Linked DNA regions of Homo sapiens. The protein of the gene in region 2 purifies or fractionates together with the protein of the main gene of each other region. This does not show direct contact. Each region holds a gene or a part of one and is shown on either strand. Other genes may lie near its edges.

Region 1 (3,519 bases), on a different chromosome or scaffold from region 2:
ATGTATTAGGTTAAGACCTGAGTCTGCTCTGGCACAAGCACAGAAATGTTTTGCATTGGTAGGTACTACTTTCTTTTGTATTTTCCTAAACATCACTTTTATTTTCCAGCGTCAACAAAAATGAGTATCTCATTGTCTACAAAGTCGTCTTTTTCTTTCTTTCCCAAAGGATAACTACTGAGGAAAAAAGGTGCTGATTGATACCTAGCTCTTGTATTTCTCTGGACATTTGTTTGGGTTCATCTTGATAGATGTTTGTCCCTGATTTTATACTTCCCTAAACAGAACTGGTCTCCCTGCTTCATCATAAATCAATATAAAGAGCAAAAACATTTTGAGGAAACACTCTGTAAACATGACACCATGTAACTTGCTCTCTCACCCCTGCTTCATAGAACTGTTTCTTAATATTCAGAAACACAAAGCTCAAAAGGTTGTTTTTTTTTTTTTTTTAAGTAAAAATTTTTCTAGTAAAATAAGATACTTCCAGTTAGCTGTATGGCTGGAGTCGTAAAAGAATTTTCAGTTTAAAGGAAGAAATTATGTCACAAATATATATTATAAATGAAAATGACAAAAATTTTACTAGATTTAAAATTCATTTATTGCAAAGTTCACTTCTTACAAATTAGTATGCCCTCTTCTACAGTATTGAACATCTTGAAATTGTATAGTGGCCATGGAGTCCTAGTTGTACATAACCTTTGGCTCTCTGCTGCTGAGATACCTACTTGGAACCCTTTTGGATGCTGCAGATTATGTTAGCAAATCACCTGTTTTTTTGGAAATATTTATGTAATTTTGTGTGTTTATGTTAACATTCCATGAGTTTTTGAGTTCTTGATTTGACAGGCCTGTTTTGATTTTTTATAGTACCGCCAGGCATATACGGGAAACAACTCTTCACAAATCCAAGCAGCTATGAAAGGTTTTGAAGAGGTCATAAAGAAATTTCCAAGGTGTGCCGAAGGCTATGCACTATACGCCCAGGTAAATGTTTTTTCAGGTTTTTTAAAAATAACTGCATACATATGCCAAATCTCAGTATGGAAATCAGAAAACAGTGCTATCATGGTTGCAGCTTCTTTGGAAGCAGGTGGCTTTGTTCCTGATTGATTCTCATGGCCCCTGGTTGGTCCCGAATCACCTCAGAAGAGGCTCCTTTGTTACACAATTTGGAAATCATGGCCCTAAACTCAATATGGGGAAGCTTAAGGCGAGAATTTCCCTCCTGTCTTCATTTGGATTGGTTTTGCAAAAAGTAATTACCTTAGGAAAATTTACCGTATGCAATTGGTGGAGAAAATATCCACGGAAAGGCTTTTCTTTCTATCTGGTCACTGCCTTTTTATATGGCTAGGTTGTTGTAACGGTTTATTTTAATTTATCTTTGCTTTATCTAAAATTCCTGAAACTCTCTTGGTTTAGGATTGAAGCTATGGAAAGCAGGATTTAAATCTGAATTTTTTTATTGTAGTCTGAAATTCTTGAAAACTTCTTAGTTTTAAATCATCCATTTAAATGAAAATGATTAGCTTCTTGTAGTGACGGTCATACATTTTCCCCTCAAATAAAAGATCTCTGAATGACTCAGTTTTCTTTCTTAAAGCTGAAAATTGGTTTTGGTGTCTACATAAACTAGCCATCTCAATACTCTATATCAGGGGTACAGCTGCTTTGTGGCCTCTTAGGAATGGGGCTGCACAGCAGGTGAGCCTTGGGCAAGCATCACCACCTGAGCTCCACCTCCTGTCACTGTCAAATCTGCAGCAGCATTAGATTCTCATGCCTGATGATCTGAGGTGGAACAGTTTCATCCCAAAACCATCCCTCCTCCTCCTACCCCCATCCATGCAAAAATTGTCTTCCACAAAACCAATCCGTGGTGCCAAAAGTGCTGGGAAGGTGTTGGGGACTGCTGCTCTATGTAATTTATTTTTCTTTTTTTTTCTCTTTTTAATTACAAAAGACATGTTGGGTTTTTCCCCACAGCACAGAAATAGGAAACGATAACAAATTACTATCCCCTGGCTGGGTGTGGTGGCTCCTGCCTGCAATCCCAGCACTTTGGGAGGCTGAGGCAGGCGGATCACTTGAGCCAGGAGTTTTGAGACTAGCCTGGCCAGCATGGAGAAACCCCATCTCTACTAAAAATACAAAAATTAGCTGGGTGTGGTTTGGCGCACACCTGTTATCCCAGCAACTCGGGAGGCTGAGGTAGGAGAATCGCTTGAACCCAGGAGGCGGAGGTTGCAGTGAGCTGAGATCACACTACCACACTCCAGCCTGGGCAAGAGTGAGACTCCATTTCCAAAAAAAAAAAAAAAAAAAAAAAATACCATCGCTGGTTGACCCCTCTCCTTAAACCATTCTTAAGGATGCTTATTTTGTTTTTAATTTCCTTCATGGTATCTGTAGGCAGGTTATAAGAACAATTTCACAAGGATTTTAAGGGTTTATTGAGGGTGGAACTATGAGAAAATTGATTTGTGTTGGATCTGTTCTTTAGAGGTAGGTCTTATATATAACTACATTAAAGTGTACATTTTAATCCTATGAATGGGTACACTTGAGTTTATGCCTTATAATTAGTAACAAACCAGGAAATGACAGCAACATCCTCATCATTGTCATGGAATTCAGAAGGGCTTTTTTGGTGCAGATTTCTCTAAGCATCTAGAAGAGCAAAGGCCACCGAATAGGAACCACTACTGGGGAACAACTCCTCTGCAGAACTTTCCCAATAGCATATTTCCCTATTACCATTCTGCCTTCAAGATAGGTTTGGTTTGTATGAGCTGTCTTCTCATCAGCATTAGCATTATTACAGTCAGTTTGCACTCAAATTTCTTTTCTTTGGTCTGTTTTCTAATTTTAGCTTCACTATATAGTATATGTAACTTTATATATGCATACAGTACGTGTGTGTGTATGTGTATGTGTATATATATATACTTAGTGTAACTTTTTTGGCCCTCAAAGCTTTGGCGTAGATGCTGGCCAACTCGCAAAGTTACAGCTTGAGCATAGTCTGATATCCACAGAACTGTGCCTTCCATTTCAGCCGTGGGATTTGTCTTAAAAAGTTGATTATAGCTGCTGCTTTTGTTTTCAAAATAAGTATTTATTACATTATTGTTAACTATGACAAACAATTGGGGAAAATCCTAAATGTTAACAGAAAATTGAATTATGTTTGCAGAATTGTGGTACACTCACTTAATGGTATATTATGCAGCCATTAAAAGTTACAAATACATTAAAGTTACAAAGCAAGATACAGCACTGCCTATTATTAAAGGGAGAATTGCATACAAAATGAACTCAACCATGTGAAAGAAAACAAATAGGGAAGTAAATAGAGATAGAAAAATATATCAGGAAGGCATCCATGCTCACAATGATGGAAGCTATAAAAATATTTCTACTTTCTATATCTTTCTGATTTTTATTATAAAGAAGATGTGCTGGCTACATTTCTTTGATATTTTTAAGAGCGATTTTTAAAATATTTAAGTT
Region 2 (3,519 bases):
GAGGTATACTAAAACCTAAAGCTAATATCATACTTAATTATAAAACACCAAATACTTGCTTCAGAAGATTTGAAACAAAGCAAAGATGTCTGCCATCATCACTCTTATTTAACTTTGTACCATAAGTCTTAGCCAGGATAATAAGGCAAAGAAAAAAAAAAAAAAGGAATAAAGATTGGGTTGGAAAGGAAGAACTAAAACTATTTCTATTCATAAGCAACATGACTGTTTGCATACACAGAGAATGCTAAGGAATACATAACAAAACTTCTACAGCTTCTAGAAGTAATAAATGAATGTTTACAAAAATCTCAAGATATAAGGTCAATATATAAACAGCTGTATGTCTATATACTAGTGGCAAACAATTTGAAAATAAATTTTTTTAAATTCCACTTACAATAGTATCAAAATAATGCACGGAAAAAAGAGATGAATAGTCAACTTATAGATTACAGTTCCTTAACATATCTTACATATCTTTTAATATATGAACCTTATTTTTAAAAAGACCATTCAACATATTAGTCTTCAAGGTAATGTCACTCAGAACCGCAATGACACAGCAAATGAAACAATCAACAAAATGAAAAGGCAACATATGGAATGAAAGAAAATATTAGCAAACCATATATCTGATAAGAGGTTAATATCCAAAATTGAATACTTGAAATACACTAAAAGAGTGTTTATAAGGAACTCATATGGACCAACAGCAAAAAAAAAAAAAAAAAGAAAAAGTAACATGATTAAAAAATGGGCAAAGGAGCTGAACAGACACTTTGCAAAAAAAAGACATACAAATGGCCAGTGGGTATATGAAAAGGCACTCAATATCACTAATCATCAGGGAAATGCAAATAAAACCATAAAGAGCTATCACCGCACACCTGTTAGGATGGCTATTACCAAAATGACAGCATGTGGTCAGGCACAGTGGCTCATGCCTTAATCCCAGCACTTTGGGAGGCCGAGACAGGCGGATCACTTGAGGTTGGGAGTTCAAGACCAGCCTGGCCAATATGGTGAAACCCGATCTCTACTAAAAATACAAAAGATTAGCTGGGTGTGTTGGCGGGTGCCTGTAATCCCAGCTACTTGGGAGACTGTGGTGGGAGAATTGCTTGAACCCAAGAGACGGAGGTTGCAGTGAGCCAAGATGGCACCACTGCACTCTAGTTTGGGTGCAGCAGAGCGAGACTCTGTCTGAAAAAAAAAGACAGCACGTAACAAGTGTTGCCGAGGGTGTGGAGAGAAGGCAACTCTTGCATACTGTTGGTGGGAATGTAAATGGAAAACAGTATGAAGGTTCCTCAAAAAGTTAAGAATAGAACTATTATATGAACTAGCAATGCCACTCCTAGGTATATATCCAGAGGAAATGAAATCAGTATCTCAAAGATACATCTGCAAAACAATCTTCATTGTAGCATTATTCACAATAGCCAAGATATGGAATGTCCACAGACAGATGAATGAGAAAATGTGGTATACACATATAATGGAATATTATTCAGCCATCAAAAAGGAAGTCCTACCATCTGTGACAACATGGATGAACCTGGAGGACATCTGCTATGTGAAATAAGCCAGATATAGAAAGATAAACACCACCTGATCTCATACCTATATGGAATCTAGAAAAGTCAAACTCACAGAAGCAGAGTACATGCTGGCTGCCAGGGGCTGGGGAGGTGGGGAGATGTTGCTCAAAGATGCAAACCTTCAGTTATAAGACGAATAAGTTCTGGAGAGTTAACGTACAGCATGGTGACTACAGTTAATAATACTGTATTGTATTCTTGAAATATACTAAGAGAGTGTTCTCACCACATATGAGCACAGGTGCACGTGCACACACACACACACAGTCATACATCAAATCTTCACTTTGTACACCCTAAATATATACAATTTTTATTGTCGATTAGATCTCAATAAAACTGGGGGAAAAAGCCACAGTGAGATACTACTTTGCACTCAGTAGGATGGCTAGAACCTCAATGTTAGACAGGACCTAGAGAGTGGGCTGACATCAAAATGTGGGTGAGGCTGTGAAGAAATTGGAACCCCTCATACACTGCCGGTGGGAATGAAAAATGGCATAGCCACTTTGGAAAACAGTCTGGCAGTTCCTTAAAAGGTTAAACAAAAGAGTTACCATATAAGCTAGCAATTCTACTCTGAGGTATATACCCAACTGAAGTGAAAATATATGTCCACACAAAAACTTGTATGTAAATGTTCACAGCAACATTATTCATAATGGCCAAAAAGTGTTAACAATCCAAATGCCCATCAACTGATGAATGGATAAAAATGTTGTAGATCCATGTAATGCAATATTATTTGGTAATAAAAGGAACAAAGTACTGATTCATGCCAAAATATGGAAGAAACGTGGAAATATTATGCTAAATGAAAGAAGCCAGACACAAAAAGCCACACATTACATGATTCCATTTATATGAAGCATCCAGAATATGCAAATCCATAGAGACAGAGGTAGATTCATGGTTGACAAGGGTAGGGTGATGGAAAGGATGGGGAGAGGTTGCTAATGAGTATGGAGTTTCTTTAGGGGGCAATGAAAATGTTATAAAGTTGACTGATCCCGGAGTCAGTAATGGCTGTGAAAAAATAAAATAAAATAAAATGGATTGGGGTGACAGTTGTACAATTCTCTCTTTTTGTATGATGTTGGAAATTTTCCATAATAAAATATTATTTTAAAACCTCAAAAGTAAAGGGGAAAAAACCAGCCCTAGAATCTACTGTGTCCACCATGAGCATAGACTCAACCACTGGACTCAAGAGCCTGCCAATCCACAGTGGGTCTGTTGTCCTTGGTGCAGAAGATGCCATCTGACCTCAAATGACATGCTGACACTGACCAAAGTGGGGTAGTCAGTCCACTAGTGTGCAGAGGCCAGGTAGTCTCTAACACCAGTGACCGATGTCAGCCCACTCTCTAGGTCCTTTCAAGAATCCTAACTTTTGGAAAACCTCTCCCGGAAATATCAAGTGTTGGTATTGTATTTACCTGGTGTTCACAGTGTTTGCAGACCATATTACTAGTGAGTCTTCCATGAAAAGGATGTTGAGACTTCCAGTGATTGGATGTAGGGTGAGGTGACCCTGGAATGCAAAAAGTTTTTTGATATGTCACTTTTAGCCCTTTGGCACCAAGCTCAACATTCATCTTCCTTTCTAGCATGTGGTAGAAACTACCTCTTAAGAAAAAATATTCTTGAAAAGTACATTGAAATAGCTTTCCTCATTGACTTCCATCCAAAAGACATCCCATTCCTTCATAGGAGAATTTACACAGATCTATCTTTATATACGGTTTCTGTATAATGGGTAGAGCCACATTTTAAAAAGGAATTTGTGTTGAATAATGTCTTTTTACAAACATATGCTTAAAATGTTTGAGATGTCAAAAGAAGGATACCACAAGTGAACATTCCATAAAGCGAGATAAAATCTTCTGAAATAAACAGAATAAGCAAGTTCTGA
Region 3 (3,519 bases), on a different chromosome or scaffold from region 2:
CAGCAAGTCAATGGGCTGAAATATCAGGCATGACTGGCATTTCAATCCACTCTATAAAAAAAAGGCATCAGTAATGTCTTTTTCGAGCACACCACTTTTTGTTCATGTAAAACCAAGCGTTTATATTATGATTTTAATTTCTGCCTTAAGTGAGATTCTGAATTCAGTGATTTGCTATTTATTTAACTATTCCATACTGTACTACTGAAATTAAGAGTATCTCTCATGTTTAATATGACTAGGACTCCAAAACACAAGAACTGAAAAATCTTAAGAATACAACTACAGTCATGCCTGCATAACAACATTTTGGTCAACAACGGACCACTTATACTATGTGGTCCCATAAGATTATAATGGCTATACCACACAGCCTAGGTGTGTAGTAAACGATATCATCTATGTCTGTGTAAGTACACTCTATGATGTACACCAAATGATGAAACTGCCAGACAAGGCAATTCTTAGACTGTATCCCCGTTGTTAAGCGATGCATGACTGTATTTATCTGATATTTTAAGTGATCGCAAATATTACAAAACACACACAATAATATGAATTTTATAAAGCGCTCAGACTACTTTCACTTAGAAGTTTAAAAATTTTCCAACAATTACACAAACCTGTGAGATAAAATAAATCTCAAATAAAGTTTGAGAAGTGGAGCTGATGGAGGTGACGGGCCAATGGGGTGGGACCTAAAACTCAGAATGACCTCAGTAATGTCAAATGTAAAAGTATTTGTTGAAATGTACACAACAGATTTACCCAACCAAACTGAACCTCAGTTACCAAAGTGGATCTGAATAAATTTAAGGTGCAATTATTTCAAAGGGGAACCCTTATGAGAGGCTGAAATAAAACAAAATTTAGTTTTCGGTCTTCCCTAATGCAAACTTGTCTTGCCTCTCTAAAACTGATAAAATCATTTCAAAATCTGAGGGAGCAAAAATATTTATAAAGAGAATGTTGTTAACCCCATGGGGAGAAGAACTTACCTAATACACCACTAGGTTCAATAGGATACTCAAGGATTGATGTAGCTGGTGCCAATGTGTAGGGGTACTCATAGGGTGTATAGATTAAACCAGCTTCGGGCCCTGGAGGAACTATTGCAGCAGTTGGGTGAGGAGTTCCGTTTGGCATGACAGCGGTCTGTATTTGTCTGATCAAAGGCATTATGGTAGGGCCAGCTGGCGTAGGAGTACGCAGGGCAGCTGGTGGGAGAACCGGCGCAGGCCCAGTAATGATCCTTGGAGCAGCCTGGGCTGTTGCTGCAAGAGAAAAGGCAAGGGCTGCTACAGTAAGCAAAGAAATTTAGAAAGAAGTATAGAGACAGCAGTATAAAATACGGAAAAATGAGAAGGGAGTAGGAAAAAGAAAGGAAAAGCAGGAAAGAAGAAAAATAAAAGGAAATCATTAGTACATGCGCTGATCACACAAAAATGCAAAAGCACACCAATCAAATGCAAACAGCTTTCCCTTTCCCAATGTGATTAAGAATGTGCAAAAATTAAAAAGCCATTGTAAAAAAATGAATGACACCATTAAATAGGTTATATTTAGTTCATACATTTGATATATCTAAGATTTCATAAGACTAAAGTACATGCAGAAGCACAATGAAACACTTGCATTAACAGATGTTAAAAAATAATTTGTAACCGGAGTCCACAGAAACTCAGTTTTGGTATATTTCTAAAGTACAGCTTTAGTTTCAAAGTAAAGAAAGAATAATTTTTATTGCATTTAGTCAAGTAACCACTAGGTATATATGTACATTTCCTGCATCTTTAGGAACCAACGTCACAGAAAATCTTAAAAAGCCCTACTTCTAAATTCCTATTAATGATATACTCACATTTTCATGAGTAAATTAATGTCAACAATTTGTAAAGTAACTACTTCTAAACCCACTAGAGGTTGCCTACATCTTCTAAATCTGGCTAGAACTTAAAAATTCTATGTGTTTTAAATAATCAGTAATTTAAACATGGTATGTTCATATAAATGACATGTATGAATCTTAAATTGTTTCAAAATATAAATTTCACATTATTTCATTTTAAACATAAAAAAGCTATCCTCTTACGGCTTATAAAAACATGCATAGATACGCATAAAAACAAAAATAGGACGGAAAAAGAGTTATCACCCACTGATCTCTGTGAACTCACATATGAAATCAACAGGGAAAAATACTAGAGGGAAAACATGCAAGCAAAGTGAAAGGACAGAACTCAACAGAGGGTCATTTCAGTCAGATACACTTCAAATTCACTTTTTCAAAATAAGCTTTCAATATGTTGTCTTTTGCATAAATTTAACAAGATAAGCTGCAAGCCCTACATCTGTAGTTAACCAAACAGAAAATTTCTTAAACACTTGAATTTAGAGATTGTGATTTTGTTAAAATAATGTAAGTTTATCAACCTAAAACTTCAACATGCTGACATAAAATAAAATCAAGAGTGTCCTCAATTCATGAAAGCATTAAAAATAGGACTGTCAGCCCCATATCAAGTGACAGAACAGTTATTTCAACTGTTCACTTTGTATGAACTATTATTGTGTTGCCAAAAGGAAAAAAGTCTGTAGACAAAACAACGCAGACAGCAGTAACCCTGGGCCTCAGAGCTCATTCTTACGTGATTTAATGTTGGCATCTCTGTAGGTGCCATTCAGAATCGCAAGCTCCATCAGCTGCATCTTCTTCAGGCTGTCTTCTCCTTCTGCCTATACATGGAAAACACATGAGATGAAAGCATTTGAGACTGTCCACAAATATAATAGCTATATCTACACACAAGCCTTAAAGTAAGTATCATGTGACTACAGTCACCTGTTTTAATAAGGGGAAAAAAAGATCAAGAACCAAAAGGTGCTAACATAATGGAGCCTGCTTTCTCTGTTTTCTCAGTAAAGGCATGTTGATATACAGCATATTGTATTTGTAAATTTTTTGTCAGTTACACCGATTTATTAAAGTTCCCCTAAAAAGCTTTACTTTTAAATAGAAATGAATGAAAATGTGAGATAAGACTAAACATAACATATTCTCTTCAGCATCTATCATTTTAAAATTACTTTAATTAATTTTATTGTTTTTAGATACAGGGTCTTGCTCTGTTACCCAGGCTGGAGTGCTGTGGCATGATCCTAGCTCACAGCCACCTTGAATTCCTAGGTTCGAGCCATCCTCCTACCTCAGCCTCCGAAGTAGCTGCGACTAGAGGCACGCGCCACCATGCCTGGCTAATTTTTTTTATTTTTTGTAGAGACAAGGTCTCGTTTTGTAGCCCAGGCTGGTCTCAAACTCCTGGCTTCAAGTGATCCTCCTGCTTCAGCCTCCCAAAGTGCTAAGTTTACAAGTGTGAGCCACTGCACCCAGCCAGCAACTATCATTTTGCTGAATATTCCAAAACTCAAATGTGTTCGTTAAACACACACATACACACACGCGCGTGCACATGTGCACACAAATAATTTTAAACATACAAGATTTGATTACAGAATTTA
Region 4 (3,519 bases), on a different chromosome or scaffold from region 2:
AAACAAAAAAACAGGTACAGTGGCTCACGCCTGTAATCCCAACACTTTGGGAGGCCGAGGCAGGTGGATCACCTGAGGTCAGGAGTTCAAGACCAGCCTGGACAACATTGTGAAACTCCATCTCTACTAAAAATACAAAAGTTAGCCAGGCGTGGCGGCTGGCGCCTATAGTCCCAGCTATTTGGGAGGCTGAGGCAGGAGAATCGCTTGAACCCGGGAGGCAGAGGTTGCAGTGAGCCGAGATTGAGCCACTGCATTCCAGCCTGGGCGACAGAGGGAGACTCCATCACCAAAAAATAAATAAATATATAAAATAAAATAAAATCCAGCATTTGAGCTTAAGAAGTCAAGGCAGTGAGTAAAACTGGGCAGTGGGACTGTCTTCAGCCCAGGCCTCGTCCGGCTCCAGACTTAGGGCCCAGCTGACTCTCCATGTCTCCATCTTGGGGGCCCTAGGAGAAGATCAAGGCCCAACCTCTCCCCAGTCTCCTCCCCAACCCGAGCTGTATCCGCCCCTGTCCTGCCTCCCCTCCCCACGCCTCTCACCCGGGTGGGCAGGCTCTGAAGGGCTCTTCCCCAGTGGTCTCCGACTCTTGTCCTCTGCTGAGACCCCTGCCAGAACGTCCTCCTCCTCCTCTTCCATCAGCAACTCCTCCTCCTCCCCTTCACTGGCTGGGCTCTGCAGGGGTTAGGGGTCAGGGACAGCGGTGGGACCCTCAGCTGGGTGCCCCCCCGCTCCCTGCTAAATCCCACCCCAGCCCTTTGGCCTAAGCCGTAAGTGCCATTGCCCCACATGACCACTAGAGGGAGGGAGGGAGCAGAGAAGGCCTTAAGCTAAGACCTCACATTTTTTTTTATTTATTTGTAATTTATTTTTTATTTATTTATTTTTGAGACGGAGTCTCTCTCTGTCGCCCAGTCTGGAGTGCAGTGGTGTGATTTCGGCTCACTGCAACTTCTGCCTCCTGGGTTCAAGTGACTCTCCTGCCTCAGCCTCCTGAGTAGCTGGGGTTACAGGCATGCACCACCACATCCAGCTAATTTTGTATTCTTAGTAGAGACGGGATTTCTCCATGTTGGTCAGGCTGGTCTCAAACTCCCGACCTCAGGTGATCCACCCACCTCGGCCTCCCAAAGTGCTGGGATTACAGGCGTAAGCCACCGCACCCGGCTCACCTCGCATTTTATAATACAAGCCCTGCGCAACCTTTGGTGAGCACCATTGCCATTTATGCCTAGGGTTCCATTATTGGAACGCTAAGCATATGGGAGCTATTTATATCCTACTGCTCAAAGTCATCGCCAAGGTCTGATTGCAAAAATTCAAAGAATTGCAACCTCAGGCATAAATGGGTTTAAACTCTCTGAACTCTATCTATTCTTTTATCTTTTTTTTTTTCTTTGAGACACGGTCTCACTCTGTCACCCAGGCTGGAGCGCAGTGGCACGATCTTGGCTCACTGCAACCTCTGCCTTCCGGGTTCAAGCCATTCTCTTGCCTCAGCCTCCTGAGTAGCTGGGAGTACAGTTGCCCACCACCATGCCTGGCTAATTTTTGTCTTTTTAGTATAGATGAGGTTTTGCCATGTTGGCCAGGCTGGTCTCAAACTCCTGACCTCAAGTGACCCACCTGCCTCAGCCTCCCAAAGTGTTGGCATTACAGGTGTGAGCCACCGTGCCCAGCCAACTCTATTCTTTTTTTTTTTTTTTTTTTGAGACAGAGTCTCACTCTGTCGCCGAGGCTGGAGTGCAGTGGCATGATCTCGGCTCACTACAACCTCCACCTCCCGGGTTCAAGTGATTTTCCTGCCTCAGCCTCCCGAGTAGCTGGGATTATAGGCATGTGCCACCACGCCCAGCTAATTTTTTGTATTTTTAGTAGAGATGGGGTTTCACCGTGTTAGCCAGGATGGTCTCGATCGTCTGACCTTGTGATTTGCCCATCTCGGCCACCCAAAGTGCTGGGATTAAAGGCGTGAGCCACCGTGCCCGGCCGCCAAGTCTATTCTTATCTGTAAAAGGGCACAATGACCTCCAACTCCACGGGGATGGCATCAGGGTGAAATGAAATCATACGCACAAAGCATTTAGCATACACCTAGATGCTCCGTTCATTGAGCGAGCCAGCACCATACATAGGTGGCTTTCACGTCTTTCAGTAACCTTTCCTCCCAGTCGGGCACAGTGGCCCACGCCTGCAATCCCAGCACTTTGGGAGGCTGAGGCGGTGGACCACTTGAGGTCAGGAGTTCGAGACCAGCCTGGCCAACATGGTGAAACCCCATCTCTACTAAAAATACAAAAATTAGCCAGGCATGGTGGCGAACACCTGCAATCCCAGCTACTCAGGAGGCTGAGGCAGGAGGATCACTTGAACCCGGGAGGCGGAGACTGCAGTGAACTGAGATCACACCATTGTACTACAGCCTGGGTGACGGAGCGAGACTCTGTCTACAAAAATACAAATTAAAAATAACCTCTCCTCCAGTTCTGTCCTAAACTGCCCTTGTGGAGGTGACCTCTCTGGGTCACATCTCACTTTCTGTCCTCGTCACCTTCTCGGCAGCATCTGACCCAGCACAGCCTCCTACCTACCAGGACACGGTCCTCACACAACCCCCGGATCCCACGCTCGCCTGGCTCCCTCTCACCTCCCCTCTCGCTGTTGCTGGCCCCAGGCTGGGTTTTCAGGCCTCCTCCCTCCACACCCCTCCCAGGTGGCCTCATCCCCTCTCAGGGCTCCAAATCCTGTCTACACCTGACACTGCCCACAGTCCTGTCTCCAGCCCAAGCCTCGCCCGGCTCCAGACTCAGGGCCCAGCTGCCTCTCTATGTCTCCATGTGGGGGACTCACAGGGTCACACTCAACACAGCCATGCTGGGCCCCACTGAACCCCCAGATCTGCCCTTCCCACATCCCCCAATTTTGGCAGCTCGATCCACCCACTTGCTCAGGACTCCAGCATCTGATCTATCAGCAAATCTGGCGGATACACTTCCAAAAATACCTGGAACCTGCCCACTTCTTCCCTGCTCCATGGTCGGCCTGGGCCACTCCATCATCCCTCACCTGGACCAGCTCACTCACCTCTGCCCTGGTCCCTGGATCCCACCCTAACCCCCGACAGTCTAGTCCCCACAGCAGCCACCAGAGAACGCCTGTGAGCACCTCAGTCAGATCCTGTCCTTCCTCTGCCTGCAACACTCCATGGCTCCCACCTTCCTCCCGGTCAAAGCCCAAGTTCTCCCCATAACCTACAGAGCCCTGCATGACCTGCCCTGTCCCCTTCCCATCCTCCCCACCTCCTTCTCTCTCCCTTACTCACTCGGCTCCAGCCACACAGGCTCCTCGCTGTTCCTCCAACACACCAGGCACGGTCGTGCCCCAGGGCCTTTGCAGAGGCTGTTTCTCAGAAGTCCTCATGGCACCCTCCCTCCCTCCCCACCTTCAGTTCTCCGTTCAAATGTCACCTTCTCAGTGAAGCCCCCCCAACCACCTTCTTCCCCCACAACTCCCAC
Region 5 (3,519 bases), on a different chromosome or scaffold from region 2:
TGGGAGGCTGAGGCAGGAGAATCACTGGGCCTGAGAGGTGGAGGTTGCAGTGAACCGAGATCATGCCACTGTATTCCAGTGTGGGTGACAGAGTGAGACCTTGTCTCAAAAAAAAAAAAAAAAAAAAAAAGAATAAGCCACATGTTGTGGCGCATGCCCCGGAGGTTGAGGCTGCGGTGAGCCATGTTCCTGCCAATGCACTCCAGCCTGGGCGACAGAGTGAGACCCTGTCTTAAAAAAAAAAAAAAAAAAAAAGGCCAGGCACAGTGGCTCATGCCTGTAGGATTACAGTCCCAGCACTTTGGAAGGATCACCTGAGGTCAGGAGCTCGAGACCACCCTGGCCAACATGGCGAAACCCTGTCTCTACTAAAAATACAAAAATTAGCCAGGTGTGATAGTACGTGCTTGTAATCCCAGCTACTCCGGATGCTGAGGCAGGAGAATTGCTAGAACCCGAGAGGCAGAGGCTGCAGTGAGCGAGATCGTGCCACTGCACTCCAGCCTGGGCAACAGAGCAAGACTCCATCTCAAAAACAACAACAAAAAACAACATGAAGAAGAGAAACTAGAGAGCCTGTGCCCCACAAGGCCACAAGGCAGAATTCCTTGGGCAGCAAAACGGAGCATCGGACCTGTGGTGAAAGCCACTCGGGAGACTGCCACAGGGGAAGACAACGGATCATCATCTGCATGCCTGTTCTCCATGTGTCCCCAGCTAGTTAATGATCAGATTTCCCGAATGCCCCCAGCGAGGAAGTGGGGGAGGGAGGAAAGCTGTTCCAGCCTGACCGAACACGTCACATTCTCATTCCCAGAGCTGCCTGTGATGATTCTAGTTAGTGGGAGTCTGTTCTGATGTCTTTCTGCTCCTGCACCATTGGGTAAGACGGAAAGCCTCAAATCCAGAGCTGCTCAGCTGAAGGCATGGCAGCCCTGGAGCCCTATAAAACCACTGGCAGCCCCAATGCCTCAGCACCTTTTTTTTTTTTTTGAGACAGAGTTTCGCTCTTGTTGCCCATGCTGGAATACAATGGCGCGATCTCAGCTCACTGCAACCTCCGTCTCTATCTGCTCCCGCCCGCCTCTGCTTTCCAAAGTGCTATAGGCGTGAGCCACAGCGCCTGGCCGCCTCAGCACATGTTTAAGTGTAGCCCAGTGGTTCTCAAACGGAGACAGTTTTGCCCCTGGGGCATCTGACAATGTCTGGAGTCATTTTAAATTGTCAGACTGGGCAATGGGGGTGCTACTGGCATCGTGGTGGAGGCCAGGGGTGCTGCAAACATAACACAGTGTGCACAATGGCCCCTAGGAGACGCCCAGCGCCGGCAGTGCTGTGCCAAAGCGCCACGGCCAGCTACACTGGATGCTGACTAAAGGCTATCTTAATATTTTGCAGTTAGATGGACACATTTCCCCCCAGATGTGAAATTCTATTCTCTATCTTCCCCATTGCTCTGTGTCTTTTTCTTTTTTTTGAGATGGAGTCTCTCTGTCGCCCAGGCTGGGGTGCAGTGGCGTGATCTCAACTCACCTCTGCCTTCCCGGTTCAAGCGATTCTCCCACCTCAGCTTCCCCAATAGCTGGGCTTACAGGCACCCGGCTAATTTTTGTATTTTTAGCAGAGATGGGGTTTCACCATGTTGGCCAGGCTGCTCTCCAACTCCTGACTGCAGGTGATCTACCCGCCTCAGCCTCCCAAAGTGCTGGAATTACAGGTGTAAGCCCCCACGCCTGGCCTTTCTTTTTCCTTTTTTTAAGACAAAGTCTCGCTCTCTGTAGCCCAGGCTGGAGTGTAATGGTGCAATCACGACTCACTACAGCCTCGACCTCCTGGGCTCAAGGGATCCTCGTGCCTCAGCCTTCCAAGTAGCTGGGATTACAGGCATGCACCACCATGCCTGACTACTTTATTTTTTGTAGAGACAGGTCTTGCTATGTTACCCTGGCTGGTCTCAAACTCCTGGGCTCTAGTGATCCTCCTGCCTTGGCCTCCCAAAGTGCTGGGATTACAGGCATGGGCCACCACGACCGGTCACGGTCTTTTCATAGGTAGGTATAAAGTTATATGTCCTCTGGTTCAGTCTTATAATTAAGTTAGGACATTCACTTATTTCACAAAATCCAAATAAGTTATTTTCAGGACTGTATGAAGGAGGTATGGCGTCTCATCAGAATCATTCACATATAATTCTAATTTAACATCAGGATGCAGACTGCTGTCCTTCCAGACTCCAGCATGACACTCCTGTGCAAACCTGGAGGGCCAAGCTGGGGCCTGCTCCCCGCTGACCAGCGCCCAGCACACACTGGGGAGAGGCGGCCCCTGCGTCGGCTACAGTGGCCTCACAGTGTCCTGAGAGCACACCAGAGCCCTCCTGACATCTGTGTAAATGCCTCATCAGCGTGCCCTTCCCAGGCATGGCCGAGTACGGTGCCCTGGCAGGGAGACTGTGTTACATGGTCTTTAGGCTTCTCTACATCTACCTGGTGACCCTTTGCCCTCTTGAAGAAGGAGGACGAGAAGCATTTAAAAAACAGTCTTTGGCCTCTTACCTACCCAATTCCCTGAGAAAAACAAACTTGAGCGATGTAGTGCTTTGAAATTTCACTGGCAGTGTAAAGTGTCCCTAACACCTCCAGCCACCTCAGAGTCACCAACACAGAGCCACTTCCTGCTAAGGACTCTCTCAAAGGAGGCTCCAAAAAATGTCCCAGACCATTCTCCTTCATATGCCCTGTGCTCCAGCCACCGAGCCTCCTTCAGGCTGCCTTCACTGGGACAAACCTCCTGGTGCCTCAGGACCTTGGCACGCCCTCTTCCCTTGCCTGGCTCATTCTCCTCTAGGAGGCCCTCGCTCCTGCAGTGCTCCCACCACACAGACCCTGTCCTCCTCCAGGGGCCCCATCCCACTCAGAGGGAAAGCGATGTCTGCTTTATGGAGGCCCCTACGCCCACCTGTCCCTGTCACCTCCCGCCACACCGGCCTCCTCACTGTCCCGAGAGCTCCCGCTCTTCCATCTTCCAAGCTGCTCTTTCCTCAGCTCCTTCAAAGCCCTGCTCACTGTTCCTGGGCAGAAAGGGCTTCCCCCTCCCTAGGCTGAGCCTGGGGCTGCCAGCCACTCCCCGCTGTGTCTTCGTCCTGGAATTGCCCACACGGGCCAAATGCGGTCGCCTGCGCCCCCATCTGGAAGGCGGGCTCCATTTGGGGCCCCCCGCTCTGTCCTCAGCACAGTCTGGCCCTGTGGGACCACCTTATGTCTCTGTAGCGAGACATAAGCTCTAAAAGTGCAGGGTTCGTGTCGCGGCCACACACCAAGCACTCAGCAGAGACCGGACGCGTACCCAGTACGTGACAAACACTGGCAGAGTGAATGAATGTGAGAACCAGGCGTGCAGATCTAACGGTGAGCTTAGGGTATGAAAAGCCAGCTGGATGACTGAGGTGAGCGTATACACAGAGGCAATTCTGCAAAACCTTACAGGCTCAGAGACTTAACGTTCTGGAAGGAACCCTGG

What was found.
Region 1: the proteins of USP30 (region 2) and TOMM70 purify together in Homo sapiens (affinity purification with western blotting, with the first as the bait; one study listed by BioGRID). This does not show direct contact.
Region 3: the proteins of USP30 (region 2) and QKI purify together in Homo sapiens (affinity purification with mass spectrometry; one large-scale study listed by BioGRID and IntAct). This does not show direct contact.
Region 4: the proteins of USP30 (region 2) and MPND purify together in Homo sapiens (affinity purification with mass spectrometry, with the first as the bait; one large-scale study listed by BioGRID). This does not show direct contact.
Region 5: the proteins of USP30 (region 2) and SS18L1 purify together in Homo sapiens (affinity purification with mass spectrometry; one large-scale study listed by BioGRID and IntAct). This does not show direct contact.

Annotation. Positions count from the first base shown.
Region 1 is NC_000003.12:100,370,077-100,373,595, reverse strand, and holds part of TOMM70 (mitochondrial import receptor subunit TOM70), read left to right. Parts: coding exon 1-58; intron 59-873; coding exon 874-990; intron 991-3,519. UniProt on the Homo sapiens protein: Acts as a receptor of the preprotein translocase complex of the outer mitochondrial membrane (TOM complex). Recognizes and mediates the translocation of mitochondrial preproteins from the cytosol into the mitochondria in a chaperone dependent manner.
Region 2 is NC_000012.12:109,073,057-109,076,575, reverse strand, and holds part of USP30 (ubiquitin carboxyl-terminal hydrolase 30), read right to left. Parts: intron 3,139-3,519; coding exon 3,044-3,138; intron 1-3,043. UniProt on the Homo sapiens protein: Deubiquitinating enzyme tethered to the mitochondrial outer membrane that acts as a key inhibitor of mitophagy by counteracting the action of parkin (PRKN): hydrolyzes ubiquitin attached by parkin on target proteins, such as RHOT1/MIRO1 and TOMM20, thereby blocking parkin's ability to drive mitophagy.
Region 3 is NC_000006.12:163,561,199-163,564,717, reverse strand, and holds part of QKI (KH domain-containing RNA-binding protein QKI), read right to left. Parts: intron 2,737-3,519; coding exon 2,649-2,736; intron 1,299-2,648; coding exon 999-1,298; coding exon of another isoform or gene 973-998; exon of another isoform or gene 52-972; coding exon of another isoform or gene 8-51; exon of another isoform or gene 1-7. UniProt on the Homo sapiens protein: RNA reader protein, which recognizes and binds specific RNAs, thereby regulating RNA metabolic processes, such as pre-mRNA splicing, circular RNA (circRNA) formation, mRNA export, mRNA stability and/or translation.
Region 4 is NC_000019.10:4,350,057-4,353,575, reverse strand, and holds part of MPND (MPN domain-containing protein), read right to left. Parts: intron 680-3,519; coding exon 547-679; intron 1-546. UniProt on the Homo sapiens protein: Probable protease. Acts as a sensor of N(6)-methyladenosine methylation on DNA (m6A): recognizes and binds m6A DNA, leading to its degradation. Binds only double strand DNA (dsDNA) in a sequence-independent manner.
Region 5 is NC_000020.11:62,174,753-62,178,271, reverse strand, and holds part of SS18L1 (calcium-responsive transactivator), read right to left. Parts: exon of another isoform or gene 1,954-3,519; intron 1-1,953. UniProt on the Homo sapiens protein: Transcriptional activator which is required for calcium-dependent dendritic growth and branching in cortical neurons. Recruits CREB-binding protein (CREBBP) to nuclear bodies.